Linked DNA regions of Homo sapiens: region 1 is linked to region 2. The links come from fine-mapping of genetic effects on gene expression. Tissue or cell type: fibroblasts. Region 2 holds a variant in brackets; the other region holds the start of a gene. All regions are shown on one strand. Distances are between the middles of the regions.

Region 1 (15,798 bases), 37 kb before region 2:
GTGACCAGCCAGGAATAAAGGCTCACTGACAATGTCCAGAAATGAGATAGTACTTTCTTTGTACCCAGGCTGACATGAGCTGGCAGAGGCAGCTTGTTGTCTATCCACTCCCTATTATCAATTTGTTTCTCAGTAGTAGAACACTGGTTTACCTGGGACCAAAAGGCGTCCGGCTGAAAAGACCACGTTTTTGAGACTTACTTATCACTCAGGATGCAATGAGATATCAGCAGAAGTGCTGGGTGGGAGGTGGGGAAAAGCTCCTTCAAAGAGGCCAACTCAAGCGGAAAATGTGCCCCTTGGCTCTCCCTCTCCTCTTCTTGCCTGGAACATGGACCTGATGGCTGGAGCACAAGTAGCCATTCTGGACCACGAGGATTCTTGAGGATAGAAACCAGTTTCAAAAGATGACAGAACAGAGGGTAGGAGCTAGAGTCCTAATAATCATGAGGCCAATTTTCTACTAGCCTAGAACTCCTTATTTCTCAATCCTTCAAGTGAGAGAAAAATATAGCTCTGTCTCTTGTAAGCCCTGTTATTTGAGCTTTCTCTCCTATGCAGCCAATCCTGATCCTGTGATAAGACTTTCTCATGTGTTACCAAAAATTGAAACACAACTTGAGTTTGCTTCCAATTGTTGGAAGCAAACCATGTCTTTAATGAAGGAAAGATATAGGAAAGAGTCCACATGCCAAGAGAATAATGGGTCCTTCAAGATGCAGGTCAGGTATCAGCTCTCAGATAAATTTTTTAAAATCTACCTTTATGCCTATAGGAAAGTTGGTTGTGGAATGATTTGTCATGCTACTTTAAACCTCACAAGGAATGTTTCTTTTCTTTTTTTTTTTTGAGACAGAGTCTCGCTCTGTCACCCAGGCTGGAGTGCAGTGGCACGATCTCGGCTCACTGCAACCTCCGCCTCCTGGGTTCATGCCATTCTCCTGCCTCAGCCTCCCAAGTAGCTGGGACTACAGGCGCCCACCACCAGGCCCAGCTAATTTTTTGTATTTTTAGTAGAGATAGGGTTTCACCGTGTTAGCCAGGATGGTCTCGATCTCCTGACCTCTCACAAGGAATGTTTCAAATAGTCTTCCTTTGATGCAGGAAATGTCCAGAAGAATGTTCTCAGTTCAAGGCAATGATCTGGCAATTAGGATGCCAGAGTCTGACTTTTAAAAATATAGGCTGCTGGGCACGGTGGCTCATGCCTGTAATCCCAGCACTTTGGGAGGGCAAGGCAGGTGGATCACAAGGTCAGGAGATGGAGACCATCCTGGCTAACATGGTGAAACTCCGTTTCTACTAAAAATACAAAAAATTAGCCTGGTGTGGTGGCGGACACCTGTAATCCCAGCTACTCGGGAGGCTGAGGCAGGAGAATCGCTTGAACCCAGGAGGCGGAGATTGCAGTGAGCCAAGATTGTGCCATTGCACTCCAGCCTGGACGACAGAGCGAGACTCCATCTCAAAAACAAACAAACAAACAAACACATAGGCACTGAATTCTGACCTGGGTAGGCTTAGTAAAATAATTACCATTCTGGGTTATAGCTCCCATCCAATATTCTGCAAGCACGCATAGTTTATTTTTCCTACCTGCACGTGCTGTCACTGTCAGGCCTTTAACTGAACATCTACTATTTCCAGTGCGGATTGGGGATTTTTATTTTTCAACAGTATTTTCCACTTGTTGTTGGACCGTTGGATCCTAAAACGTGTACCTGATTGTATTAATACATCACTTGGGCCCATCTTATTATCTTGACCAATGAATCTTACTGAACATGTATTTCAGAAGCACTTCTAGAAGACACAAGGTGACCCTCTAATTTTCACTTCTTTTGAGATTTGCACATTTGGCAGCTGAGGGCTTTAGCATGATCTTCTTCAGAGTTTACGGAAGCTGCCCAGTTTCACCCAGCACCTTCTAATTTGTTTCAGTGGCTCAGGTGAAACCAGAAGCATTTGTTTTAAAATCCTTCTTGCCAGGTTTTGTTTGCTGAGCCTGGTGCGTTTCGTTACTAATTCAACAATGCCGTGACGGCAGAGCCCAGTGCTTTTTCTGCACTGGGTAGGGTGGCACGTTGCCCGGAAGTACCTGGGGGCCACTGCTGCCACAGGACACAATGCTAAGTGGGAAAGGTCATGGGAGCTACACTCTATTAATGTGGTCAGAGTGCCTCTCCAAGAACAAAGTGTGGCCCCTCACAGGAGCATGAAAGCAGCCAGCCCTCTCTTTCCAGGTCGCTTTTTAAGCTTATCATTATGAAGTATAAACAGTCAAATTCCTTGGGAGCAAGTGCAGCCTTTTCTGTATTGCTTGCAGAATCTCTCCCCACTGCAGGTTTAATAAAAGCCAGGAGTACTTTTCTCTAGCTACAGCAAGATGTATTTATATGTTTGGGACTGGTTAACAGGGCTGTGGGAGGGGGTTAATTGTGGGTGGTTTTTTTTTTCTTTTGTTATTATTGGATAACACCATTATTTTTTCCCCACCTGGTACTGACACATATTAACACACATTTTACGATAAAGTAGTTCCTGTAAGCTGCTGCAATCATAGTCATTTGCAAACCCAAAGCTTGATAAACCTGAAATATTTAAAACAATGTTGTTATTATTAGCCAGTAAAGACCGGGCTCTCCAGACTTAGGACTAGCTGAAACTTCTTCCTGTACCTCTTGCCACATTTTCCTTATTCCTCTTAACCTAGAGAGTATACAGAATTTCTAGGGGGTTCTAGGAACAACTAATGGGCTACACACAGTGTTTTTGTGTTAATAGGTTTGGCTTTCTCTCCAGTTTGTTGAACGGTTTTTTATTGCTGATGTTTACGTTCTTATCATTTGCTCTCTGGCAAGGTTTTGTTCTTCTATAATCATTTTCTCATTTTAAATTCATTTGATAAGTGAATTTCCAAAAACCCTCAACTCTGCTGGGTTTGTTTTGGTTTTGGGCACCTCTGATTTATAAAAGTCATTCTGGATACTGATCAGGGTCATACTTCTTCAGGGGATATGAACGCATTTGATTAGTAGCCTGTGGGTCAGTCTGCTTTCCAGCATATATTTCTTGGGGTTGGAATCATAGAAATAAATCCAATTTGTTTGACTGAGATACTTCAATCCTCCTCCTAAGTCAGTTGTCACATTTCCCATCAATGTCCTATTTTGACATTGTTCACGTCATTGTGAGAGTAACTAAATATGCAAGGTTTTGGAATAACCTTTGGGATATTCTATTTTATTTGTTTTAGGAATTAGAAAATTCAATCTAAGCTTTACAAAAGTCTTTGCTACCTCATAAACCATGCTTCAATTCCAGTCTCTAAGTTAAGTCATATGACGTGTTTCTTTGTTGTGCCAGGGACCAGATCCTTTGGTGGGTCCCAGCTGTGGAGTCTGCAGCAGAAGATGTGACTAGAGAAGAACCTATTGCTTCAAGCAGTGATGATTTTGTTGAATTAAGGAAACAGACTAATAAGGATTTCAAAATACGAACCAGAGGATAAATGGTTTAAGATCAGAATACAGGGAAGCAGTAAATGTAGGGAAATAGCAAACTTGTTTCAAGAAAGTGCAAAATGTTTCCAATACTCTCTACCAGAGTAGCCTCCTCAGAGTAACAGTAATGGTAGTAATCACTTTAGTTACTCCATAACTTATTAACTTCTTTAGTTTCAACTCTGATAAATAGTTATGTCTTCATCAACTAATCTTAACCTTAACTCTGTGTCTATTCTAAACACTATTTTTATTCTCATTTTATTTCATTTTTTAAAACTTTGTATCTTGAAAACAAATCAAACTTATAGAAAAGTGCAAAGAATAGTAAAATAAACTGAAAATATTCTCATTTAAGATTCATCAGGTGTTAGCATTTTGCACATTTGTGTTTGCCTTCCATAGATGATACACAGATGATAGATAGGTAGATTGATTGATGTGTAGGTGTGCATACGGTATAACTTAAAATAGAAGCTAGATAGATAGATAGCTCTCTCTCTCTCTCCATATATATGTGTGTGCGTATACTATTAGAGCATATATATGTGTGTGTATATGTATTCTTTGATGATAATATATTTGTTTGAAAATCCTTCTAAACAAATATTTGTCTTAGAAAATCATATTATGGTGTGGTATTCTACGCTTTCATACTGAACATAATTTCTGAATGGAGATTTTCACACACATTCTGTATTTTCATTTCATAATAAAAACCAAAACAACTAGCAGTGTGAATTATAGGGTTCCCTTTATATGTTAGTGGATATCTTAATAACCTTTAATAATATAACAAATTTAATTATAATGTTTAAATATATATAAAAAATACCTTTATGACCACGTTGTTTAAAATTCCACACTAAGACAACAATCTCAATAGAGAAAACAGGCAAAAGCTATGAACAGAAAATTTACAGAAGAGGGAACCCTGAAAACCATCAACAATGAAAAGATGTTCAATTTGTCAGTAATTAGAGAAACACACATTCAAACAATAATGGGCCATTACTCTGCACCTATTATATTAGCAAAATTTTAAAACTAGATAATGCCAAGTGTCCTTGTCATAGCTGATTGGACCAAGGCACAGGGCAGCCCATGTATAAAGCTGCTGGCCACATAGGTGGTATCTCACTTGACTCAGAAAGATGGGCTGGAAAAATCAGATTTGTCTCTTGGAAATCTGTATCTAGCACATTTTAAAACAAACACGTTTGGAAGGAGAATAAACGTCAGGGACCTGGGCTAGGGCAGGGCCTGAGGTCAGAGCAATGCCAATGGGCCTCAGTGCACCAAGTTACAAGGGAGGGGCTTCGAGCAGGCGAAGGAGCCAAGAGCCTTGGAAGAACAGACTGGCAGCAGAGTGATGTGTGAAGGCCAGTAGAGATGCCGGGAGACGTGCCACGGGGCAAAGAGGGGAAAGGGATTCATCTCAGTTCCTGCCAGCTTCCCAGTTCCGGTTCAGTGCAAACTGGGGGACTTCCAGTTCTCTTTGGAGGAGCAGGAATTGGAGGTATAGGGGAGGAGGAGATACAAGAAGAAGGATGAAGGCCTTTGAAATTCCAAAGGAAAATGACTTCAGATATTTGTTTGTTTGTTTGTTTGTTTGTTTTGCTACTAAAAACAGAGACAGAGTCTCCCTCTGTTGCCAAGCTGGAATGCAGTCATGTGATCACAGCTCACTGCAGCCTCGACCTCCCAGGCTCAAACATTCCTCCTTCCTCAGCCTCCCGAGTAGCTGGGACCACAGGCGTGCACCACCATGCCTGGCTAATTGTTTGTTTGTTTGATTTTTTTTTTTTTTGTAGAGATGCAGTCTGTTGCCTAGACTGGTCTCAAATCCTGGGCTCAAGTGATCCACCTGCCTCAGCCTCCCAAAGTGCTGGGAATAAAGGTGTGAGCCACGGCCAGAGATTCTTATGCCTTGCCAACCAATCAATCAAGTGTGAGGGTATAAAGACATTTTCAGAGATACAATGAAAAGAAAAGCCACCCTAAAACATCAAGTGCACCTAGAGTTTTCTTGATATCCTTTTGTAACATGCCAGCATTTTGTCAAAATCACTGAAGTTCTTCTGAAGTGATGAGTCAACAAATGTGTGATGTTGAAAAGTAAATTAAAACACAGATTTCACACCAGCCAGTCATCAGTCCCTATTCATACAGTGTCGTAGGTCCTCATTTAGAGGCATTGAGAAATTAGAATATTCCAAGCATGGAGGGCAAAGAAGACATGGACCAGATTGGCTTCCAGAGAGTTGATAGAACAGTCTGGGAGTCAGACATAAAAGGAGAACTGCTAAGAAGTCCCAGGGCGTGACAAGGCCTGTAATAGCAGAGGTGGACCCCGGTACAGGGGAGTCGCAGAAGAGGTCGCTCAGACCCCACCTGGGAGAGTCATGAGTGAGGTGGTCCATTTGGGCCAGGTGTTGGAAGATAAAAGAGGAGGCAGATTGGGATGGAGGTTAAAGGTGCTGGGGCGAGGAGCAGTCAGATTGAGAAGGTTTTTAATAGTAGCAGCATCTGCAGGGCAAGGAAATGGTGTGTAATGCAGGATTCTGAAACGTGGGCAGTGAATAGTAGAATGGGAGGCTGAGGGCGAAGGCAGGGGCACGCTCAGCAACAGCAAATGCAAAATAACTTCAGGGAAGGGAACTTCAGTGAGAAAAGGTAGGCTGGCTGGAGGCGATCTGAAGCGGTGAGGACTCTCCCAAGCAGGAAAGCGCCACCCACTTGTCCTCCATGGATACGCTGACCCTGGGTGGCTCAGACCTACCTAATGTGAATCCGGTTGGGGAGGAAGGGGAGCGGGCATCCCCAAATCTACATCCACAGGATTCCTATGCAGTCAAAATTTGGGAATTAATACTGAAGGCAGGAGTGTTAACATGGGTAGGGAAACGCAATACTGACGGAATCCTAAATCAATGACTACTTAGCAAATAGAACATCTATATTTACAAGTCCAAAGTGTTAACATAACTATTTGAAACAGATTGCTAGAAACAAAAATAAATGGGACAGTGCCTTGGAAATATATCAGATAGAATATGACTGGTGATAGAGTCCTGAAAAAGAAGAAAAGCCTGGGGGTTCTGCAGAAGATTTACGTTGTTCATGGCATTAATCATGGTAGATTCCCAGAGGAGGTGAAATGTTATGGACGGGTGGAATGTGATCCATTTTACTGAGGAAGTAAAACTATTCTTGCCTTGAAGGTAATGTTTAAAGTCAAAGAATTTTTAATTAGGTGCGGATTTTTTAAAAAGAATTTTTAATTTACAAATAAGATTGAGTTAAAGAATCATTTTCTGCCGTAGAAGCAATAGGATTTTTTAAAAATTCTATTTTAAATTGCATAAAAAGCATCTTAAAGTAATCAGATAAGTTGAGCCATAAGTAAATGGATATTTAAAGATCTTATTAAAATAGTCTACCTGATTTAGTTATTATTCTGACCCTATATAGCAATTCACAGGGTTTTGTTTCAATTAAGTGGCTCTAAGATTATCATTTAAAAACAAAAAGTGTAACTCTCCCGTTTGCAGCTCTCTGCACTCATTCTATGACTGGAAGGTGGGGCTTGTTTTGACAATGCTTCCAGTTAGGGTCTCTTAAGTGATTTGCATGTTATTAACCTGGATAGCCACTAATAGGGCTTCACTTCCTCGATTTCATACATAGCCCCGGCTCATATAAAAAAGAGTTCTTCAGGAGAGCAGAAAAATCGGAGCACTTGCACTATCGGTGAAATGTGTAGAAAGATAACAGAAGCTACCCTCCTCAAAAAAATGATGAGTTTGATGAAAAGAAATTAACAAGCTGTGTGAGTGTGCTGCACATGATCAGCCATGCTTGCTAAGTCTGTCTGTTGGTTGTTGCTATGGCTACGAAAAGCCAGTGGAACCCAATGAGCTGTCTGCAGCAGAGCTGAGAGGACCAGCCATTTTACTTATGGAAAACAGTGTGGCATATTCTGCTGAGCTTCGCCCTGGAAGAAGCCTCTTTTATACATCTCTTCAGGGAAGAGAGAAGCAATGGGCATGTTAGTATACAATGATCACAGCCACGCAGGCCTGCAAGCTGCCTTTTGGACAGGCTGTTGACTGCCGTTCCAATTAGCTGATTGGAGAATGTGGAATGCAGAGTGATAATGCTGCATATCTGCTATCAGGCAGCAGCAAAGGTTTTTGTCTTGGGAAGGCAAGCTTTCCCTGCAATATTATCTCAGCAGCTCCCTAGCTGCTTACCCTGAAAACGAGGGATCCAAACGGAGGGTGTTGCACTCTGCTAACGCTGGTCCTGTGCGTGGCTGTGGCATATGAGCGGCAGGTCTGAAAAAGCAGGTGTGTGCTGGGACGGGCACTGGACTGGAACGCAGGCGGACGCTCTCGGGTTTACCTGCTTCCTGTTAACAGATTGTGGGCTCCCAGGGCATATGTCTGCACGCTGAGGCCGAGGCGGAGAAGGGGCTTCCTGAGCGTCCCAGTACACTGACAGAGGTAAGCTTTTTTGACCTTTTTGAAAGCACAGCATAAAAATAACTGGGGCAAAACTTAGCCTGAAAGATTTACGTTGATTGTGTGATTTGGATTTACCAAACAAACATACACAGACACATACACACACGCATACACACACATTTCTAGAAAATAGTATCAGAGACATAGAGTTGTTTCAGTGAATTTTGGTTCTAGCAATTGGAAGATAAAAAACATGACCGATATGCTTTGGGGTTTTAAAACCAATATTTACTGTTTGAGCAGACTACGATGGCTTGTTCTGAACCGTCCTCACAGCCAACAACATTTCTCGCTTGTGAACAATGGATTCTTTCGTGACCTGCACTTTGACTTGTATTCAGAGAACTACATGAAAAAGAACTACATGAGAAGCATTTCTTTTTAAGCCTCGTAAATGATTTATTTAACTCTTAACACAGCTATGTACACACTTAAATTGAAGAATTCTGTTCTCTATGTGGGTCATAATAGCCAGTGGATTTTGTACTTGCTTACCCTGGACTGAGTGTCTTGGTGTCCTGTTTGATTTAGTTGGGGTAGTTGTAAAGCAAACAGTGTAGGTATTGGAAGCCGTTCACACCTCCTTTCCGAGTATCTGCATGCCTTGCTGGCCCAGAGCACAAGACCCCCATTGTGCTCCCCCGGCTCAGAATCCAAGGAAAGAAAGGAAGCGAAGCCTCTGCATTGAGTTCTAGGACAGCTGAGGTATGTGGCAGTAAAACTTCTTTTCTTGCACAATTTTTCTCACAAGCAGATAGGTTTCAGAGATAAAGAGTGAAACCAAAAACACCGCACACCTCATCCAAATCTGCGCTCATACTTGCAGCAAATGTTTGCTGTCAGTTGCTTCATAATAACAGCACAGACCCCGAATTGCAGGAGGAATTGCCTGGTAGTGAGTATTTCCTTGATTTATAGTCTCTTAGGAACAAAGCTGTTACTGTGGATTGAAACTGGTCAGTCAAATCAAAATCCCTGGTAAGAAAATGACGGAGTAAGGATTAGATTCTGGTTCAGCAACATTTCAGCTTTACTCAAGTCAGTTCTTTGGTTGTTTTGTTACCAAAAATGTCAGATCACTTATAATACTATTGAAAATATTTAATAAAAATGTTTGGTCAAAAACTTTGAACAAAACCCCTATCTACAAAAGATGGAATCTACTGTGAAATTTAAAATAAGTAGTAACTGAGATCTACTTCTAAGAAGTATATTTTTATTTGCTACCTTTTTCCTCCAAAATCTGGATGACATGAGTCTCTTCAGAATTTTAAGTATAATTTTCACTGATAGATATGGGCAGGAACCGCCTGTTTCAGAGATGTAGCAATGTTCATAAGCCCTAAGATAAGAGAATGCTAAAGCAGTAGGAGAATAGTTTTCCAAACTTTTGTTCTAAATGTCAAAATAGTCAAAATATAAAGATAGAGACTAAGAATCTCAGTGGAGCCAAACATGTGCAAACGTTTGGTGATAAGTGTACGCCTATGCGGGTTGTAGGGGATAAAATGGTGAGGTGACGGCCTTGTACTTCATTATGTTTAACATTCAAAGGAAAGCTAAATGAACAGACTTAGTTCTGAGTCCAATTCTATGAGCAAAAATATCAGCTAAGTAAGGGATTCTATATGAGCTGAATGAAAGGTAGAGAAAATCTCTCTCCAATTTAATTTCCTTCAAAGCTTTACACTGCCAAAGGATTTCTTAGAATTGACACAGTGCAAAGACCTGCAGCAAGCACCTGATTTCCTATTAATTTTTCTTGGGGGAGCTTTTAGAAGAATGAGGTGTAGAAATATCCAGGGCACACCCGACTGCTGTGCCTGTTGCATTGATAGTGGCACCAAGTGAGACAAGACCCTTAGCCCACGGGAGGAATGGCACACACTTTATACCTGTGCAAGTTCTTTCCTATTTTAGTAACCTTTTAAGATGACATGCTATACACAGATGACCATTTTAAGTTCAATTCTGTACAGCGCATCTCCATAGTTAATAATTCAACAATTTTGAGAACCAGGTTCAGAGACATAATCTCTATCCTTCAAGACTTTGCACTTTCGCTTATGGCTATTTTTAGACCCTTATTTTCTGCCACTTTCCAACTCTTCTGCTGGCAATATCAAATATTTTGGAATTTCCAAAACATACTATATCAGATTTTTTTTTTTTTTTTTTTTTTTTTTTGCAAATGCAGTGCCCCCTGAAGAGTCATTTCCTTTAAATCTCCCCTGCAAGGACAGCTGCTTTCATACGCCCTTCAAGTCCAGCTAGACATCCCCCCTCACTGTCCCCCACCCTGCTTGGCTACATCTGAATCTTACTTCTGACTTTCTGTCTGCTGAACCATATTGCATTTGTCCCTGTTCACAGCCTTCCAGAGCTTTGCTGGCCTCTGATTCTAAAGTACTTTGTCCAGTGTCCAGAATTTTGCATTCAGACATTGTACTGGTAACCTCAGACTTCAATATTTTCCTATTAGTTACTGTAAATATAGACTTGACCTAGAAATAGAAGTCCTAATACTGCCTTTTATCAAGGAAACTTAAAACATTTGAAAAACAACAATGAGGCTTTCATTTTTCTGATTTGAAAATATGGCTTCAGGATCCCAATTTCATAAAAGCTACAACTGTCCTATAATAAATCCAAATTTCCCGAGGGAAAATTTTACAATGTATGTTTTAAACAAAACAACTTGAATGTTTTAGTATATAAATAATACTATTTTTCTATCCATGGCTATTATAAAATGTATAGAAAATATCCCTATTACAAATTTGTTATGGAATCAGACTGTTTAAAACTAATGTTGAGTTGATGATGATTAGTAGCCGATTATAATGTAAGACACTTATGAAGTTGTTTTTCTTGCTGAAACCAGAAGAAAGTAAAGGTCGTGAACTGGAAAGAGATTAAATAATTGAAATGAAGTCTACAATGGCAGCATTTCTTTTAATGTTCCTAAGTAAACCTAAAAGGTGACTGGAAATCACTAGTTACGTTACACTAGTTATGTTACCCTACAACTTGAGTACCTGGGTAAGGGAGAGAATATTCTCTTAGAATCACTCTTGATATAGATATAGGTTTGTTTACAGAGACTTCCTACCCTCTGTTCTATATTAGATAACATTATTAGTATTTTTTAAATAAGCCTGATTTCAGTAGCCTTTTTATGAAAAAACTGCCACAATCAAAAATAAGAATGTACCCATAGTTTTATTAAGAAGTTATAAATACATAATTCCTTGTCTTTAAGATATCTGTGTTGAAAGCAAAAGTTCTAATTAATACTGTATGAATTTTTGTATATAAAGTAGAATTGATGAGGAAGTTTAAAATATCCTGATATTTGGGATTAGAAAGTAAAATATTTAGGAAATTATTTAAATTCATATTTCTTGACATTATTGCATTCATTCCAGCATTGAGTTTTCTAATAAAAGTAAGATAAATAGCAATTCTTAATTATCATGCTGTCCTTTAAAGCTTATTTTGGCTATCTTCCAGCTGATTTTAATGTACAGCATGCTATAATTAAATAATAGCTAAAGTTGGAATTGGTTCTATTCATCTTAAAGACTAATCATGTTTAATTATTTTAAATTGCATATAGTAATTAGATTTCAGAAACCATGATTTTGTAATATGCCTGTACTGTTTCTAACATTTTCTATTTTAAGTCATTTATAATATTTTTAAAGGTCTCAGTTATGTCTAACTACATGGATAGCATAATGAAATGAGTTGCACTTGTATTTTATAAAGAAGACTTGTGATATATGATTGCATTAGATAATTTTCTGGAAGTTCCTCAAACTAACAATTTAATTATGGATATGCCTGTTAAATCCTAAACTGCCACTGTCACGTGGAAAAATACAGATAAATATGTTTTCAAAATATGTTTTTCTGTATTATTTCTGAAAAACTCAAGACATGGACATGCAGTTAAAAGGAAACACTTCTGCAACTGTTGAGTTCTGAGTATTGGCAAATAAGAACTCACGTTTCAGCTTAAGTTCAATTAAGATGATATTTGCTGAATAAATGACGGGGAACCAGCAAAGACGGGTTTTTACTTTGGTGTTTGCAGCATAACAGATCCATATGGAACTCCACCACACTTCACTGCACCTTGGTCTTCAAAACGGAAATATACTAGTTTACCAAGTAGGAATTTTGGCCAAAAAAGCAGTGGTTTCCTCTTCCCTATACAGGTGAGGTAGACATAAATTCAGCATTAAATTCTGTACCTTAGAGAAGCATTATTTGAGCAAAAATTCAGAAAGCTTTCACTTTCCTGAATCCAATCAAGGGTCTTACTTTCAAAGATTTTCCCACCTCAAAAAAACAAAAACACAATAAAAAAGAAAGAAAACAAAAAGGCCTGGTAATGTTCTCATTATATTTTCTAATTTCTCTTTATATATTCATATTATAATTTAGGGAAACTTATTTTTAACAAAGAACATTATCTGAAAGTTTCGGTGATATTTTGTTTTTTTCTGTTCATTTATACGGTTGCCTACTTATTAAATTTTTGATTTTTTAAATTTAATCAGAAATTCAGTTTTTCTCTCTTCCCTCTGAGATGTTTTCCCAGTGGTTAAAGTAAATTACAAGTCTTATAATGAATTATATCCTCTGCTTTGAATGGGAGAGTTCATCCAATCCATTGTTAGAAATAGTTCTTCTTTTCAGGTTCCTTGTCCTAGTACATTTTTTCTGGAATAGTTGAATTTGAGGACAGGGGCAACATAAACCCGTCAGGCTCCAAATCTTCTGATGTTCTATTCAATTCAGCATCCCTCAGAGACTAATATAGCTGCAAGGATTAGCCGCAAGGAGTCCAACAAACTATAGCAAAAACAGGATTCTAGGCCGGGCGCGGTGGCTCACGCCTGTAATCCCAGCACTTTGGGAGGCCGAGGCGGGCGGATCACGAGGTCAGGAGATCGAGACCATCCCGGCTAAAACGGTGAAACCCCGTCTCTACTAAAAAATACAAAAAATTAGCCGGGCGTAGTGGCGGGCGCCTGTAGTCCCAGCTACTCGGGAGGCTGAGGCAGGAGAATGGCGTGAACCCGGGAGGAGGAGCTTGCAGTGAGCCGAGATCCCGCCACTGCACTCCAGCCTGGGCGACAGAGCGAGACTCCGTCTCAAAAAAAAAAAAAAAAAAAAAAAAAAAAAAAAAAAAAAATAGGATTCTAGCCAAGAGCTGTGCCACTCGTGAAGATCCTCTAAGAGTACAAGCATGGGATGCCATGAAGAATGGCAAGTGTTTTAAATGCACAGAAAGAAAAACATATTCAAATGAGATTTTGGCTATGTTGGAGAAAATTTATTAGTATAAATATTCATTCTAGTCTCCTCTAAACAGAAGTCCCTGTACTTACTTCTCGCTGAGGACAGCCAGCTTCTCAGAGGCACTGAGTCCTCTGAAGAGGTAACACCACAGAGGCAGCAGCCTGGCTGGTGGAAATGTGCTTCATTAAGCCTTCGGCTGCATGGAGAATCCTCTTCCACCTATTGAGAGGAGTCAGCGACTTCTGCCTCACTGGGTCTTTTTAATACCAGATATTTATACTTCATACAGGTTGCCTACACTTTATGCTACTAAACAACAAAAGTTTAAGAGAGCAACGCTTGGCTGCTTAAAAATGAGCCTTTTTGGTAGATTATCAAGATGCCTTCACACCCAATTATTTCAGTTCTCTGTGCTAAAGTTAACGAGGGAAAGGAGATTAGATAACAATAACCTCAGCTGTTGTTGTGCTATAACTGTGTCATCTGGTGAAGGGTTTGAGCACTTTCCAAAACGCGTGCATTTAACCCGTCAGACGTATTCTTGCACTATAGTAAATACTACATATTTTAGTTTGCTCAATATCTCAAAATCTAGGTTTCAAAATTTTTATAGCATAGTATTACTAGTAGTTAAGATGAAAATTGTATAACTGCTTGGTTGCTCTGCTACAGTGTGAATAGACCGGTGTTGTTGGATGGACCTAGAGCGCCAGGCTTAAACCAGTTTACGCAAAGGGAGGTCAGGAGAGTGGTGAATGGCAAGAGAATGGAAAAAGGTACAGGTTACTTCTGCAGAATAAAAGTTACAGGGAAAACTTGACTCGCTTTAGAATGGCAGCCGGAACAGAGAGGCCCTCAGCAAACAGGTCAACATACTGCATATTCAGTCAGTATTTGCTGAATGAATGAACGGCTTACAGCAATCAGATCTTCCCCGGTGTTGTGCTAATGCCAACACATGATTAGAAAGTGCTCTTTGAATCTACAGATAAAGTGACAATTCAGACATTTTTCTGATTTTTTAAAAATCAGAAAACAAAGGAGAAGAAAAAACACATGAAAATTTAAAAAGGCTATTATTAAACATATATATATATATAGTCTTCCTGGTGAGAAGCATTATACTTTAACAATTATATAAGACAGAAATATTACCAGAAGCATAGATAAAGCTCAAATGCAACACATCATATGGTGAATAATTCAGAAGATAAGAAAAACTGATTTCTAATCTCAATTTTTTTAAAGCCTCTTGGTACAGTCACATTCATCAAGAAATATAATCAACCTAAAGAGTTAAAATTTTCTTTTGTAAAATAAAAAAGAATAAGAAAGAAAAGTTTAAATCCAGAGTTATAAAATTGAAGATCTTCATTTTAAGGCTTTAGAATATAGTTGAACAGAGAGTTCAAGACAGAAAGAGGTATCAGTCTGGGAAGACCTTTTCAAGTTAAAAAAAACCATAGAAGCTGCAAGACCTTACACAGTCAATCAAAATATCTGCTTCTGATTTAACTCAAGAAAACAATAGAAACCTATTAACTAGTATTCAGTCAACTACGCAAAAGATTATTCAAAAAATGTTCAATTTGTTCACTCCAAAAGATATTGATAATAATAATAATTTATATAGATTTCACTCTGTACTTGCTACCATCCCAAGAGTTTTATGCATATTAACTTTTAATGAAAAATCTGGAAAATCACAAAATCTATAAGTATAATACCAAATACTAAAAAGTAGGGACTTTTAAGGACGTTTACATTGGAATTTCTCAGAAACATTTTCTGCAATCTTAAATTATTTCCCAAAGAGGGATTTAACATTGAATCGCTTTGTCTTAGATGCGCCGATACCACTTTACATGTTGTATTATTTTTATATCATGTTAATGAAGTGTTTTGACGTGTCCAGTCTTTCCATGTGAAAGTGACCTCCACGAGAGAGCAGTCTTGTTTACGTGTTTTTACCCACCATCTTGCCATGTCCACTACCAAGAGTGAACGAAGGATGGCTGAGTAACTAGGCCAAGTCGGTTATTGTAACAAATAAAATTCACACCCAAGGAAAGGGACCTGCTGAAAGCAAGGTAACCTGCGTGTGGTTCCATGTGACTTTCATCAGGAGAAAACTGATCTGGTCTACATATCTTTAAATGTTTGTTTTGTTATGGGTTTTTTGTTTGTTTGTTTTTGGTCAGTATGCTTTTTGGGTAAAACACTAAGCTAAGTATCAAAGCAATCCTTTTTAAGTCATCGAGACTTTTTCAACGGAGGAAACATGACGCAACCAAAAATGATTTGGCTCATTTAAACCACTTGTAGAATTTTTCCTCCGAATTTAACCTTCTGAGCAACTTAACTACATATGAGTTATGTCTGACAGTTAAGAAAATAATAAAAATATGAGAAGGCACACTTATCTTCTTTGTCAGAGAAACCATATCTGTTTT
Region 2 (15,798 bases):
ATTGAAATCTATTTTAGAATAAATGCAAATTAAGATAACAGAACATATTATATCCTGAAGGGAAAAGCAAGTGGCACCTGCCTCTTAAGACAGCTTCTAAACCAAATATGTAGCTACAAAGCAATGTTTCAGAGAATCGTCTTGGTTGGAAACAGCTGCTTAATTAGAATACATAATGTTTTGCTTTTTACATGATCAGATACTTTTTATTTCACAAGTTCTGATAAATATAGAACCAAAAAATGTACTCTTGTGTTGCTTAATGCCTTCGGCAGAACTTATTTAATCATTTACTTATTCAGCAACTACGTATTGGCCCCTACTTAGGGCCAGGCAGAATGCAGTACCTGCGGGAGGAATGTAAGTCATGTGAGGGGCAAGCGGGAGCTGATAGGCTAGTGGAGGAGAGGGGCTCCGATCAATTACTCCAACAAATTCAAGCAACTGAACCTGAATTTAGAAGGAATGAGGAAGGTGATTCTTTACGAGTTAAAAAAAGGGGGTGGCGGGGCTACGCTGGTGGAGCAGGGAAGTCCTTCCTGAGGAAGAGACACGTGAAAGCTGGAGGCTGCATGGCATTCGCCACTGGGCAGGGAAGGCATTCCCATCACATTGAGCCAGGCAAGCCAGGGCCCTGGATGAGGCACAGTCCAGGAATGGAAGGGAGGCTGGAGAGGCCGGAGGCAATGGAAGGGAGGCTGGAGAGGCCGGAGGCAATGGAAGGGACGCTGGAGAGGCCGGAGGCAATGGAAGGGAGGCTGGAGGGGCCGGAGGCAAGGGAAGGGAGGCTGGAGGGGCCAGAGGCAATGGAAGGGAGGCTGGAGAGGCTGGAGGCAATGGAAGGGAGGCTGGAGAGGCGGGAGGCAATGGAAGGGAGGCTAGAGAGGCTGGAGGCAATGGCACTGGGAGGAAGGTGGTGGAGATCTGGGCAGAAATGCTGCAGAACACCAGATCGTGCAGGGCCTTCAGTGGGCCACATGGAGAAGGCTTCACAATTTTCATAGCAGATTTAGCGACTGTTGCATATGCTCAATTTCAAATGGAATAGAAATAACAAGAAAAGCTAAGTCATGGTTACATAAACAGCAGAGGTGCTCTTTAAATACACAAAGAATTCAGGCAGCCAGTTTAAAACAAAGTTTCAGGCTGGGCGCCGTGGCTCATGCCTGTAATTTCAGCACTTTGGGAGGCTGAGGCAGGAGGATCACCTGAGGTTAGGAGTTCGAGACCAACCTGACCAACATGGTGAAACCCGTCTCTACTAAAAATACAAAAATTAGCCAGGTGTGGTGGCGCATGTCTGTAATCCCAGTTACTTGGGAGGCTGAGGCAGGAGAATCGCTTGAACCCAGGAGGTGGAGGTTGCAGTGAGCCGAGATCACCCCATTGCACTCCAGCCTGGGTGACAGAGTGAAACTCCATCTCAAAAATAAATGAATAAATAAAAATAAATAAATGAAACAAAGTTTCAACTAGAAAATTGAGCTTCTAACAGAGGTTTTAAGAAGTTATTTCTATATAATCTCTTTCAATGATACTGGTCCTTTAACCTTTTGTTAAGATTTTCACCTCACTTGATAAACCTCAACCCAGATGGCAAAATGACACATGTGATGACAAATCGCCTACTAAAAAGTATTTACTTAACATCAATAACCAGGCAGTAGAAGTCATTGGACGTATGATTTGACTCCTTTCAAACAGTGCTGCAAAAAGGCGTAAATCATGGCAGACTGCCGAATGTAATCCAGATAAGCCCAAGAGAAAGCATAGGTTTAAGAGTCAGTAAGGCAGTTGCAGTCCCATGCCTCTATCTGCCTTTCAGGACACAAGTGTAGGGAGCTTGCATGACTGGTCTAAAGTCACTCAATGTATGGGCTTTAGTTTCCAGCCCGATGCATGCATTACATTGTTCAGCAGGTGGCATACCATGGGTGAGGTTCCTGTAGATGACCCGACGGATGCTTGCTACGTGCCCAGAGCTACCAGGTATCCTTATTTTTCTTGCATATGCTTCACTTCATTGAGTGTGGTTGAAGCAGACAAGCATAAAAGGTGTTACTCCAGGCCAGGTGCAGTGGCTCACGCCTGTAATCCCAGCACTTTGGGAGGCTGAGGTGCGTGGATCACCTGAGGTCAGGAGCTTGAGACCAGCCTGACCAACATGGAAAAACCCCATCTCTACTAAAAACACAAAATTAACCGGGTGTGGTGATGCATGCCTGTAATCCCAGCTATTCGGGAGGCTGAGGCAGGAGAATTACTTGAACCTGGGAGGTAGAGGTTGCGGTGAGCCGAGATTGTGCTATTGCACTCCAGCCTGGGCAACAAGAGCAAAACTCCGTCTCAAAAAAAAAAAAAAAAAAAAAAAAATGTTACTCTACTTAGTCTAGCCTTCATTTTGCTTACAATGTGCGTGACTTCAGCACTTCCCTGTTCATCCCCATCCCTTCTTTTAGTCAGCATTAGCTGATTTCTATAGGAGAATCTGACTGCTGTTTCAATATGTCTTTGAAACTCACGCCAGTGTTTCAGATGGTCTTGCTGCCTCGCCCTAAGCACTAAAATATTTGACTAAGAGAATGACACATTGTTCTCCTGGGATACTAGACAATGCCACTAGAATGACAGGGACCAGGGAGGTCTCTAAACATCTATAGCACAACTCACTCTTCAAAGGACTGCAGGGGTAAAGAATGTTCTCTAGAAAACAATACTCATGGGAAAACTACATTTACTTCCTTCCTACTGGGATCCTCTCAAATAATAGGAAGCGATGAGGAATCAATTGAGAATTCTGTGCTGTCTTGGGAAAAAAATGTAAAACAACACTCAGAGAAACCCTCTAAATATATGTGTTCAAAAACTCACGCCCATGAAAGTCCTTGGAAATCACCACAGTATCTTTTAAAAATTACTAAATTTAGCCACATATGGAAATCTGCACAGTTTTTCAAATATATTTTGATTATTTAACCAACATTCATATAAAATTTACAAAGCAGCAGATTTTTCCATGGCTGTTTCAAATAACAATTTTCACCCTCACAACAACCCAATAAAAAAAGGTCTCATTACAGAGGAGGAAACCGAGGTATGGGGAGGCTAAGTAAGTGACCTACAGCCACAGCCACGCGTAAGTGGCAGGATGAGGATTCGAACCCAGGCACCCTGACTCCAGACTCTACTCTTAAGTATTATGCACTTTTAAAAGTTTTCTGAAAGGTTCAACCAAGAAAGTGAGAAGCAAAGCTGCAGATGGTCTTTGCATATAGAATTGGAAGTTTTAAATGTTACCAGCGTGAGCCCAGATTCTCTCTTACAGTGAGGATTTTATTTTTACCAAGCTCTGTGAAACACACAACGCTCAGGTGCCGCCTGAAAATGTGAGAAGTCATTCGGCAAACTAATGAGGTTATTCAGACACACTCTTAAAGTTGGCGTGCTCGTTTATTTAAGGCCGGAACAGAGGTGGAGCGAATAACAGAAGGCCTCTCTACTCCAAAATATGGGTCTTTCTCACCAGTTCTAACAATTGTAGAGTTATTGGGGTTAACAAGATCCTCTTTTGGGATGTAAATACCCTCTAATATGGTTTGATCTGTGTCAACTATGCCTTAATGATGTACAAATGATCTAGATCCTGGCCTTTCCACATCCAGTCTGATGGGACTCAGTGCTTGCTTTAATCTGGAATCAGCTGTTCACGTATGCAGATGCTCGAGTCACATCCAGAGTCATTAAATCTGACTCTCTAGGGGCGGGGCCGGGGTACTGGTGTTTGTAAAAGTTTACCTTATATTCACCCAGGGATGACAGACACTACTTCATATCATTTCTCTCAAGTTTCAACATGTTTACACGCAGCCTGGGGATGTTGTGAAAATGCACATGCTGGCTCAGTAGGTCTGGGTGGGGCCTGAGGTTTTGCGTTTCTAACAAGATCCTAAGTGATGACGTTAATGTTGGTCCGTGGACTACTTTTTTAAGAAGCAAGGCCCAAGACCAGCGGTTTTCAAAGTGAGGTCAAGAATCACCCGGGAATTTGTTAGGGATGCAGAATTTCAGGCCCCGCCAGACCTACTGAATCAGACGCTCTGGGGTGGACCCAGCAATCTGTTTTTACGAAGCTTCTGGGTCATTGATGCTCACTACCTTTTGAGAACCGTTGGCCTGCATGGCACTGCCCAGTAGAAATAGAATGCAAGTCACATAGGTAATTTTAAATTAGCTAGCAGTCAGATTTGAAAAAGTAAAAAAGAAACAAGTGAAATTAATTTTAGCAAAATATCCTATTTAACATACTATGTCCAAAATACTGTCATTTCAACACATAATATAAAAATTAATGTCATAATTTACATTCTTTTTTCAACGTGTGGTCAATATAAAAATGATATGATAGTTTACATGTTTTAGGAAGAGACAACATTAATCTATTTTTATTTGTACAAATTTGTGGGGTACAAGGAGAATTTTGTTACATGGATGGACTGCATAGTGGTAAAGTCACGGATTTAATGAATGTGTCCATCACCTGAATAATGAACATCGTACCCACTGAGTAATTTCTCATCATTCACCTTTTTTTTTTGTATAAAGACCTCAAAATCTAGCATGCATTTTACACTTATATGACATCTCAGTTCTGACTAGCCGCATTGAGCTCAGTAGCCACATGTAGCCACCATATTTGGAGAGCAAAGCTTTACACTTACAGCAGAGATGATGGTACTGACTTTCACCAAATGCTTGCTGTGTGTCAGACATTACCCAGGTAAGCATTTTCTGTGCATTATTCCTATGAGCCCTATGACAACTCATTATTATCCCTGTTTTATACGAGAGTGGGTTATGTTGATCTTTGTTTCCTTAATGCCATAGCTTCTCAAGGAAAGCCAATATTTAAATGCATTATACCCTTTTTTGGTATAAACTATTATAAGGAGGAAAAAGAAAAAAACAATTAAAAAATGTGTCTGTCTGCAGCTAGGCTTCCAATTATTACCAGTAGAATTACCATTCCACATTGAGGCCAAGAGAAACAAATATCCCATGTTAGATTGGCAGGTATTTAAGACATAGTAAAATGTAACCATTTAAAATAAGTGAAAAGAAAAATGCTTTATTCTAGAGTCATTTTTTAAAGCCTGGTATACATTTTTAAAACAAAGTTGATCTTATTTATAAAATTCAGATTAGAGATTTCAAAGTTAATTTATAATTTTTTAATTTGAAATACAGTTTTAATATAAGGTCTATTGAGCCAAAGGATTTCACTGTTTTTAAATAGTACTTGAAGTAGTAGTCATGTAACCCTTTTTTTTCACATGGCATAATCCTCAGTATTTTCCATAATCTATTTCAGTGTCTTTCTTTAATGGCAAAGAAAGAATTGAATTTGAATTTGATATAAGCATCTAGCAACCAACCCTCACATTAATTATAAAATATATCAGGGCATTTTTTTTTTTTTTTTTTGAGATGGAGTCTCACTCTGTTGCCCAGGCTGGAGTGCACTGGTGCGATCTCAGCTCACCGCAACCTCCACCTCCCGGCTTCAAGCGATTCTCCTGCCTCAGCCTCCCAAGTAGCTGGGACTACAGGCGCGTGCCACGACATCCTGCTAATTTTTTGCATTTTTTTTAGAGATGGGGTTTCACCATGTTAGCCAGGATGGTCTAGATCTCCTGACCTCATGATCCACCTGCCTCAGCCTCCCAAAGTGCTGGATTACGGGCCTGAGCCACCGGCAGTTTTTTATACTGAATTCAGGTTGAAGACTCTCTTTTCATCTCCCGATGGAAAGCCTCTCAGCAGTACTTTCTGACTACTTAAGCATTCTTTTTGTAATGGGGAGTAGGGGGTTGAAAAAAACCAGGGATTTCATCTATTGGAATGAAAGCGTTCATAAACATACTTAACTGCTTCCTTGGTAGAAAGTAAGTAATTTTCCTCCCTGGTGGTGGTGTAAAGGCACAATGACTCAATGGAAGCCTGAAGTTGGTCTGATGACACACAGTATCTTCCTTCATCCACAATAGAAAGAGATCTCAGTCTTCAGCTGCCATGATGTGAATAGTCTCATCATGTGAAAAAGTCTGGAAAATATTTAAAAATTCTGTTTTTATTTATTCTCACTGCATCTGTGTGCTCTAAACCCCTGAAGGCAAGGACACTTCATTCTGCCCACCACTGTATTCCCAGAGTGCTTGGCTTATAGTAAGCTCTGAAGTGCTCACCAAATAAATATTTGCTGAATGAATGAATGAATACGACTTCTTAATTTTTATTTCTAGAAACAAAATGAAGGCTCAAAGTTTGTCAGTCATTGCCAGTGACCCAACCAGAATGATTTCTTCATTGGCCTGTGGAGGCAGAAGCAGGGGTCACTGTTTGTCTGCCTCATGTCACTGAATGGTCCCCAGTCTCTGCCAATAGATAAGAGATGTCAACGCTTAACCCAGTAGCTTTCAAAAATAGCATAGTTGATGAAACTGGAAATTTAGGTGCGGGCTCTTTTAAGAAATCATTTGTCTTCAGTCTTAAGAATAGACTGACAACAGATACTGCTACCAGAGGGCTCTCAACTATTTCTTAAGACCCCCTAGGAAATATCAGAAGAAAAGCCTCCTTCTCAATAAAGCATAAGTAGGACATCTCGTTTTCAGTGAATCAGGTAATTCATTTTGAAAACTTGAGGAGCACTGTGTTTCTTTAAGATTCCAGTCAACTTTGGGTTTGTTTTGTTTTCAATGGTGCTGGCAGTTTTCCTCAAAATTTAAATGAATATTTGCACAATGAACCAAGTCGTTGTGGGTTTCCTGGTTGGTGTTTTCTCCCCCCTGGAGTGGGGGGTGGCGATCTGGGCAAGGCATTTTCATCCCTTTGCAGACAACCCCGGCTGCTGTTAATGCTGAAAATAGCTCAAATGCTCTCAGAACAGTAGCACCACCCAGCAGCTGGGATTCTTTCCCTCTCTCATTTGCCTCTCTCTTGCTTTTTTTCCTTCAGACACTTGGATTGGACTTAATCTTAAACCTCTGGAGTTCAAGACCTTTTAAAAAGGGCTAAATAAACAATCTCTACATGTAAAAGGCCACTGACTCCTACTTCCTCTGTATAGAGCAACTGTTGAACTCAGCTGCCTGTAGGTAAGATTTTTTATTCTGGAATTATTTAATTGTTTTCTGGTATGTTCATAACTAATGTCTTTAAAATAACTTACTTATAGTGAAAATAATAAGGGGAGTTGTGAACAATTTTCAGGTAAACACGGTGTTCCAGAATACAGCAGGAGCATCTGGGCATTTTTGTGGCTGTAAGTTTTAAACTTTGCTTAAAGCTCTCATAATAGTGACC[T/G]GCAGTACACGCTTGACTATGACTAAGCCATGGATCAGAGGTCTAATTAAGCCTGATTGCCAGAGCAATGAGAGGATGTTTCAGACATCATATTTTTGTTGTTTAGACTGCTTTATTTTTAACTTTCCAGGGGCATTAAAAAAAAAAAAAGAGGAAAAAGATGCAACCATCCACCTGAGTAAAGATAATATATATAAGTAATTGTTCTTTAAGGGCAATGAGCGAGCCGTATTGTATAATGTTCTCCTTTCATCACTGTTTCGTTCATTGCTCGTGTGGAATTAGAGTGGTTGATTTGGGGGAATCTGGGGGTTTTGTTTTTGTTATTGTTGTTTTGTATGTTCCTAGCACATTTTAGGGGACAGTGTTGAGGATTCCTTACTAAGCTGACTGTCTTTTGCTGGGTACATCTGCTGGCAGGTTTCTCTAACGTGACAATGTGATACTTCGGGTCAGTTTCTGTGGCTCCCCTCTCCCCCTCGTTACGCTTGCACTTGACATTTTGCGAAGTACTTTGATCTGTGGACTTTAACTTCAAACACAGCATTTACTTTGATTGTGGCTATTTACTATGCTCAGTAAAAAGTCTCCTTTTTTTTCCTTTTGGTTTAATGCTTTCATAGCATTTCCTTTAAACAATTTATTGGAGCTTTAGTTTTCCTCACTGATCTGTCTTAGATTTCACTTCTAGAGGGACCCCCAATTGTAAGAAAAGTGTTCTCTGGTAAAGTTCTCCCCAACACAGACTTCAGGACAGTTCATGGCCCCTGTCTGGCAGATGTGTAAGAGCAAGCAGCAAATGAGAGTGCACAGAGCCCCGCGCTGGCTGCCCTGCTGCCTCAGAATCTCCGTGTGCCTTGGGGCCCAACTGGTGCTTTTTAAAAACATGGATGCTGAAATCTTTGGAGTTCAGAAATACTTTTTTTTCAGAAAAGTTTATTGGTATCACAGAGCACATATCAAAGGAAAGCATGCATTTTAACCACATAAGGATCGTCTGAGTAACAAAAACGGGAAGAAATAACAAAGAAAAAGAAAATTAGAATCAAAAGAAAACTGGAAAAAAAAAAAAAACCTTAGTAGCCAGAAGTCTGTTTTACGAGTGAAACTTCTGCTGTGTAAGGGATAAGGGATTTCTTAAAAATGTATTTCCTAAAATGGGCAAAATGTAGCACTTACTAGCCATTCAATCAGCTTTGGAATATTCTCTTCATTGTGAAGAAAGCACAGGTGTGTGTGACATTTGTTCCCTTCTTCTTTCCCACCCCAAGCACAAGGTATTTTCACAGTCCTCAGCCAAATACAGAGTTTGACGTTCCCTGGCAAACGGTCCCTGCGTGTTCTGTTGAAGGTTAGGAGTAGAATGAGCCTAATCCTGTCAGGAGACTGTTTAAGTCCCAGTCAAGGACGCTAGCTCCTCAGCGCTGACGCAGTCTGCCCCGTCCTCTGCACCTTGCTAAGAAGGACAAACGCAAGTGGCCACAGGACAAATCTCCAAAGGGGCGGAGCTGTGGAGAAAGCTACGGCAGAGATCTCCCTGGATTAGGAGCAGATGCAATCGAATCTCCAGAACTTGGATTTATAGTAGAAAAACCTAGAGATGTTCAGTCTAATCTTTAAGTTTCCCAAACCTGGGCATTTCATTGCCACTTTTCCCCTTCAAATCTACATTATAAGAAGCATGTCAATCATCGCATTTATGTGTATGGTTACCATTTTAAATCCTCCCGTTATTTTGAGCCTGGGCTTTGTTGGGGGGATGGGGTGCGTCTAGCTAGAATACTCACTCTCCCTTAGTACTGGGAAGCCTTGGTCTGCAGGGCTGAGTGCAAATATATTGCTAGAGGTGATAGTCCAGCGGCAAAATTAAATGGCACCAGGATGAAATCTTTTTGGAGAATGGTAGGTGATCATTCCATTCCCAGGCAAGCCATTTTCCCCCTGTTTTGTTTTGTTTTTTTTTTCTTTCTGTTTCTCTTCACCCCTGAATTTTACGTTGAAACTTTGGATTGTTTGAATGTGAAACTTCAGGTGAAAGCTAGCCAAAGCCACCGAGTTTCACCCAGCTTCCACATGAAAGAAGTATTCTACCCAGCCTTGCACGAAACTTGGCCTGTGTTGCCAAAGGTTTCATGAATGTCAGTGAGCCTGGATTTGAAACATAACCCAAGGCCAGGTGACTTCTGGTGACTTTGAGGCTTTATTGTATTAGTATAGAATCTGCTGAACAGGGACAGTCCTATTTCCGCATCTTCTACTATAGTTTCATGAGGGCACACGTTTTCCCCCAGTAAACTCCCATTTATCTCATGATGTTTGAAAGCCAGGTTCAATCCTAATGTGAATGTTTGTAGCCGTGGGATCGAAGCACTGGCAGATAGAGGTCTGCGTTTTAAATTCCAGCAGCCTGGCCCTCAGTGGTGTGAACATGTTGGTATAATTCAGCTGAAGGAAGGAAGTCCCGGGAGAGCCGTGGAATGCCTTTCTTTGCTTAAATATACCTCTGTGCTCGTGAGGAACAAACAGTAACATTTTGTCCAGGTCTATCCGCTTGACAGTATGCCTTTTGTTCCCTCTCCAAAGGTGGTGTCAAATATATTGGTGGAAAAATAATAAACTTCCAGATATTTTTTTTCCGCCTGCTCAACTGATATACTCCAAGGGAACATTGCAAGCATTGAGAAGTTCAGTACTGTGGCTGGGAATGTAAGGTATACTGAGAATAAAGGAGCTCTCAGTGAAGGCAATGTCCCTCAGAAAAGCATGGCGACCCAGAGTTGATGTGGGTGTGAACGGTCAGATGGTCCCCGGTTGGGAAGGGGTGTGTGTGTGTTTTCTGGGTCGGGGTAGTAGCGAGCAGAGAGGAAAAGGGAGATTTGTAAGCTTTGTTCAGCAAATCTGTCACATCGAAAACAAAAATAATCAAGCCCAGGATCTGAAAACATTCCTTTCTTTTGTAGATCATATAAATTTGTGTTGGCTGAATATTGAATTTTTTTGTATTATTTTTCTCATTAGAGACACCAAGCATTAGGATTCCAGGCATAGTAAATAATCTCCAATGAAAATATGACCCATTGGGAAACATAAAATCATTGCAGATAACTCCCATGAGTCAGTCCCAGGAAGGTCCTCATGGTTCTCTGGCAGTTATGAAATGCTAAGCCACCCAGGACACTAAGATCTGACTTGTCCTTTTCTTAGTTGGGAGATTTCTAAACTCATGTGAAGAATTTTCATAAAAATGAATGTGTGGCCTCACTAAAGATTTAGGCTATCTTTGGTGAGATACATAGATATAGATTTATTATAAAATTAAATTGCCATCAAATTTCATTTTGAAATTTCATAGTCACTTATATATTCAATAAAACAGACTTTCATTAAAGATGTGGTTTGCATTTTAGCAGGTGACATGCAGTGGATGCCCTAGTAGAGAAAGCACTGGAAAAGCTAGCAATAACACAATTTGGAAGTGCCATATGTAGAAGCTGCTTTTTAGCACTGGCTTCACCAGTCATAGTGTAGCATTTATCAGCATATGTGATTTGATAGCCCCAGACTGGTACAGTGAGCAGAGGAAAGGAAGATGTTCAAATGGAGGTTCTAGAGAAAATCATTCAGAACCATCCCACAAGGAAGCTCTCACTAACCATATCAAGGTATAAGGAGTTCAGTAGTTTTAAGACATTCATCATCCATAACAAAACAGAAAAAGGGGAAGGATAGGCTTGGCGTGGTGGCTCACGCCTATAACCCCAGCACGTTGGGAGGCCGAGGCAGGTGGATCACTTGAGATCAGGAGTTCAAGACCAGCCTGACCAAAATGGTGAAACCCCATCTCTACTAAAAAAAAAAAAAAAATGCAAAATTAGCCAGGCATGGTGGTGCACACCTATAATCCCAGCTACTTGGGAGGCTGAAGTGGGAGAATAGCTTGAACCTGGGAGGCGGAGGGTGCAGTGAGCCAAGATCCCACCATTGCACTCCAGCCTGGGCAACAAGAGTGAAACTCTGTCTCAAAAAAAAAAAAAAAAAAAAAAGGAAACGATGAAAATGCCAGGGAAAGGATTAAAAAAAAATTAAAAATTGAGAATCAACACCAAGCTAGTGTATGTGCAAATATTTCTCTAAATCATTAAAAATCTTATTTCAAGAAGACTTCATTTGTCATTTAAGAATGCAAAAATCAGTGCTTTAAAAATCTTTTTGTGCTTAATTGACTGTCAGAGAAAAATGGAGTCCATATAATATTTATTTCTCAAGGATATATTATTACAGTCTAAATTTACATATACAATGTACTTGTTTTATTTTTTTTTTAAATCAGTGTTTGTCTGATCAGGACATGATGACACAAAACAGTAACAGCAGTAGTCTCCCCTTTGCAGTAGAGCAAAGAGGATTATTTATCATAAGCAGATTAAACAGTCATTTCTAGAAGTCTGCATTCTCCAACCAAGTTTTTATTAGTTATTTGGATATTATGTTTTTCTCTGAAATAAGAAGTAGTAGAGCCTGAGCATCTCTACTCTAAAAGTCCGAAATCCAAAATGTTCCAAAATCTGCAACGTTTTGAGCACCAACATGATGCCACAATTGGACAATGAAGATGACATTAACACGGCAGAAAATGTGCATACAGATGCCACAGTGACAATGTGATGGGCTAATTGAAGGACTAGAGTGGAGTGCATTCCTAACAGAATAAGCAGTCATGTCCATTTAGAAACTCAAAGAGAGACTTCTAAGACAAAAATCGCTGTTAATGAGGCAGATGACGCTGGAGAAAACATTTTAAAAGCCATCCTACTCGGGAGGCTGAGGCAGGAGAATCACTTGAAACTGGGAGGCGGAGGTTGCAGTGAGCCGAGATCGTGCCACTGCACTCTAGCCTGGGTGACAGGGTGAGACTTCGTCTCAAAAAAAAAAAAAAATGCCATCCGGCAGAATGCCTCTCATTTCTCAGAGGACCCGCTTCATGATCTGTCAACTGCTTCAGATGTTTCTTATCACCTAAAAAAGAAAAAAAATACAGTGTACAGTGCCCTTTACTCCAAACACAGCATCATAGGTGGCAACTGAAAGCCTGCATTGTTTGTTGCTGCTGTTGTCTAACAGCTGAGAAAGGAAAACGGTCTTTTTCCTGTGCTGCCCAGTTACCTAAACACATTATTTTTCACTGTATTAATAGGATGTATCTTTACTGTTTAAAAAATAGTAGTATTAGGCTGGGCACAGTGGCTCACGCCTACAATCCCAGCACTTTCGGAGGCCAAGGCGGGTGGATCACCTGAGGTCGGGAGTTCGAGACTAGCCTGACCAACATGGAGAAACCCCATCTCTATTAAAAATACAAAATTAGCCGGGCATGGTGGTGCATGCCTGTAATCCCAGCTACTCAGGAGGCTGAGGCAGGAGAATTGCTTGAACCCGGGAGGCACAGGTTGCCGTGAGCCGAGATGGTGTCATTGCACTCCAGCCTGGGCAACAAGAGCAAGACTCTTTCAAAAACAAAAATAGTAGTATTTTCTACTGTTAAGTACTCACGTCTGAGTAAGAGCAGGAAAATGATTGCTTATTGGTAGCAAATAAATTCAGTCAGGAATGATGGTGATGCCAAACAACACCAGATTTTCCATGTGGGTGGCTGAGATATTGATGCCTTTGCTTTCTGACGGTTCAGTGTACACAAACTTCATTTTATGCACAAAATTATTAAAAACGCTGTATAAAATTACCTTCAGGCTATTTGGATACACTACATATAACATAAGCGAATTTCACATTTGGATCTGGGTCCTGTCCCCAAGATGACGCAGGATGGATATGCAAATATTCCAAAATCTGAAAAAATCTGAAATCCAAAATGCATCTCCAGTCTCCCATGTGCCTTTGACTTACACCTTCATGCTAAGGGTTGACTTTTTTTTTTCCCTGGTACTACAAGATGCTCCCGCATCATTTTGTACATTTCATGTCCTAGTCCTAAAATCAATTATTTCTTCAAGGAGCTCTGGTTACTTTTATTGAAAAATGGTATCAGTAATCAAGACCAGGGCATCCATTTTTAATTTTTGAATGTGACCTTATTGGCCACTTACTTTTTTCACTTGAAGAAAATTTTCTTTTTGTGTATGGAATTTCACTCTGTAGCTGTCAATACCTTGATCTGGTGTATAAAGATAACCTTTCTTGCTTTTTCAGAAGAACAGGCCACATGTCGCCCTTGCATACTCCCCTTTCCCTTACTTTGAAACAAATTCAATTAAATATGATCAAATTTGCATTTTTTTTTGTTTTTTTGTTTTTTTTTTTTTGAGACAGAGTCTCACTCTGTTGCCCAAGCTGGAGTGCTGTGGTGCAATCTTGGCTCACTGCAACCTCCGCCTCCCAGGTTCAAGTGATTCTCGTGCCTCACCCTCCTGAGTAGCTGGGATTACAGGCACGTGTCACCACGCAAGCTAATTTTTGTGCTTTTAGAAGAGATGGGGTTTTGCCATGTTGCCCAGGCTGCCAGGCTGGTCTCATAGTCCAGACCTCAAGTGATCCACCCACCTCGGCCTTCCAAGATGCTGGGATTACAGGTGTGAGCCACTGCACTTGGCCAAATTTGTTTTTCATTGTTAGTCTTGGTGAGAGATTCAAAGCCTTTGATATGGTCTTGAAATGCAATCTTAAAAGATAGAAATCAGTTGTTTCTTCCTTAAATAGACGTGAGAACATTGTGCATTATTTAAAATGTGATCAGTCTAGGCCCTTCAATGAACATGGGATTCTGTTACCAAGCCTTGTACGTACTGTGTGCAAGGAGCCGTGCCACAGGCAGATGAACAGTCTGGTAGGAGAGCTGGGCACATACACCTGGATATAACACTCTGCAAAAGAAGATGGGCAATGTGAAGTCCCCCAGAACTCTAGGAGCTCAGAGCTGGAATTGGGAGCTGGGCGTATATTGTACTAGAAAATCAGTGGTATTATCACAAAGGAAAAGCTGTACTGGAATTAGGATTTTGGTTTGGATAAGAGGGTATTCAAATGGCAGAAGGTGATGGACAGCAAAGATTCAGAGGAGAGAAAACTCAGGACTCAAAGAATATTTAGGTCCCATGCAAAGCCCCTGGGAAGGTGCATTGAGTTTGTGTTTATTTATTGAGAACAAAAGTCTCACCATCAGGCTCATGTGTTAGTAATACTGCTGAGCAATGTTCAAGGTGATTAGAGAAATGAAACGCTGGACAGACCCTGTTACACAGATGTAACTGAGAAGAGGAGGACAAAGACGAGAGCACTTGAAATAAGATGAGACCAATTGGTGCAGAGACCGAGGCCTCGGGGCAGTCAGTACTGCCCTGTGTATCTAGACTTTGTCCTAGAAAGTAAAACTTACCTGTAAAATAATTGCACCTATAATTTTATTTAATGCTCAGTATTATCAGAGATGAAAGGTTGTGTTTTTATTATTTCACCAAATGCATAGCTCTTTCATTTTCTTTCTCTTTTTTTTTTTTTTTTTTTTGAGACAGAGTCTCACTCTGTCGCCCAGGCTGGAGTGCAGGGGCGCGATCTCGGCTCACTGCAAGCTCCGCCTCCCGGGTTCACGCCATTCCCCTGCCTCAGCCTCCCGAGTAACTGGAACTACAGGCGCCCGCCACCACGCCCGGCTAATTTTTTGTATTTTTAGTAGAGACGGGGTTTCACCGTGTGTTAGCCAGGCTGGTCTCGATCTCCTGACCTCGTGATCCGCCCGCCTCGGCCTCCCAAAGTGCTGGGATTACAGGCCTGAGCCACCGCGCCCGGCCAGCTCTTTCATTTTCAATAAAACAAGAAAACCATTGGTCCAGGCAGTGAAGACGACATTTCAAATCCTAAGTTTTGGCTTTCTGTACTTCACTGAGAGAAAAACAAGCACGGGAGGTGAAGATTACAGAGAAAGACATGAATGTGCCAATAGTATAATGAGCCAAATGTTAGGACGAGGCTGGTTGAAATAACCTGTCGGCATACCGAAAAGAATCGAGTTAGGAAATTGACACAGTTTAAAAAAAATTTTAAAGACCAGCTTGATATTAGAAAGGATAGAATAGAAACATTATTCTCTTGTTCTCAAATAAATTTATGCCTGAAAAAAAAAGAGATTGAATTTAGCTTAATAGAAAAACACACGTACAGCATGTATTTTTAAGGCATTGCATGTTGGCTACTGTGACCCCTGGAATATGCTGGTCCAAGTACAAATCTGAATTGGTTTAATGCTAGATCTTGACATGCCCTCAACTCAGTGGTACTTCTTTAGTTCAATTTTGCAAACCTAAAAAATTCGATTGGTATTGAATTTAGCTCCAGGTGGTATCCAGGAGTTTTGTGTGTGTTTGAACTGAACTTTGAAATATTTCAAAACTATGTAACTCTCAAGTTTTAGAACAAATTGTTAAT

Which allele goes with the higher level. Positions count from the first base shown, and alleles are read on the strand shown. Sizes are in standard deviations (SD) of each study's normalised expression.
As copies of T replace G in region 2, the expression in fibroblasts of the gene that starts at base 7,481 in region 1 goes down (small effect, 0.32 SD a copy in GTEx).

The links.
Region 1: it holds the start of SORBS2, and the variant in region 2 is fine-mapped to the expression of SORBS2 in fibroblasts (GTEx, PIP above 0.99).

Annotation. Positions count from the first base shown.
Region 1 is chr4:185,803,877-185,819,674 of GRCh38, reverse strand. SORBS2 (sorbin and SH3 domain containing 2) reads left to right here and starts at 7,481. Exons shown (of 27, transcript NM_001395207.1): 1 at 7,481-8,011.
Region 2 is chr4:185,766,583-185,782,380 of GRCh38, reverse strand. SORBS2 (sorbin and SH3 domain containing 2) reads left to right here. Exons shown (of 27, transcript NM_001395207.1): 2 at 7,015-7,154. Among named protein-coding and RNA genes, the nearest start is that of SORBS2, 38 kb to the left of the region's middle. RefSeq lists a silencer at 6,772-7,066. The variant T/G (reference allele first, on the strand shown) is at 7,363.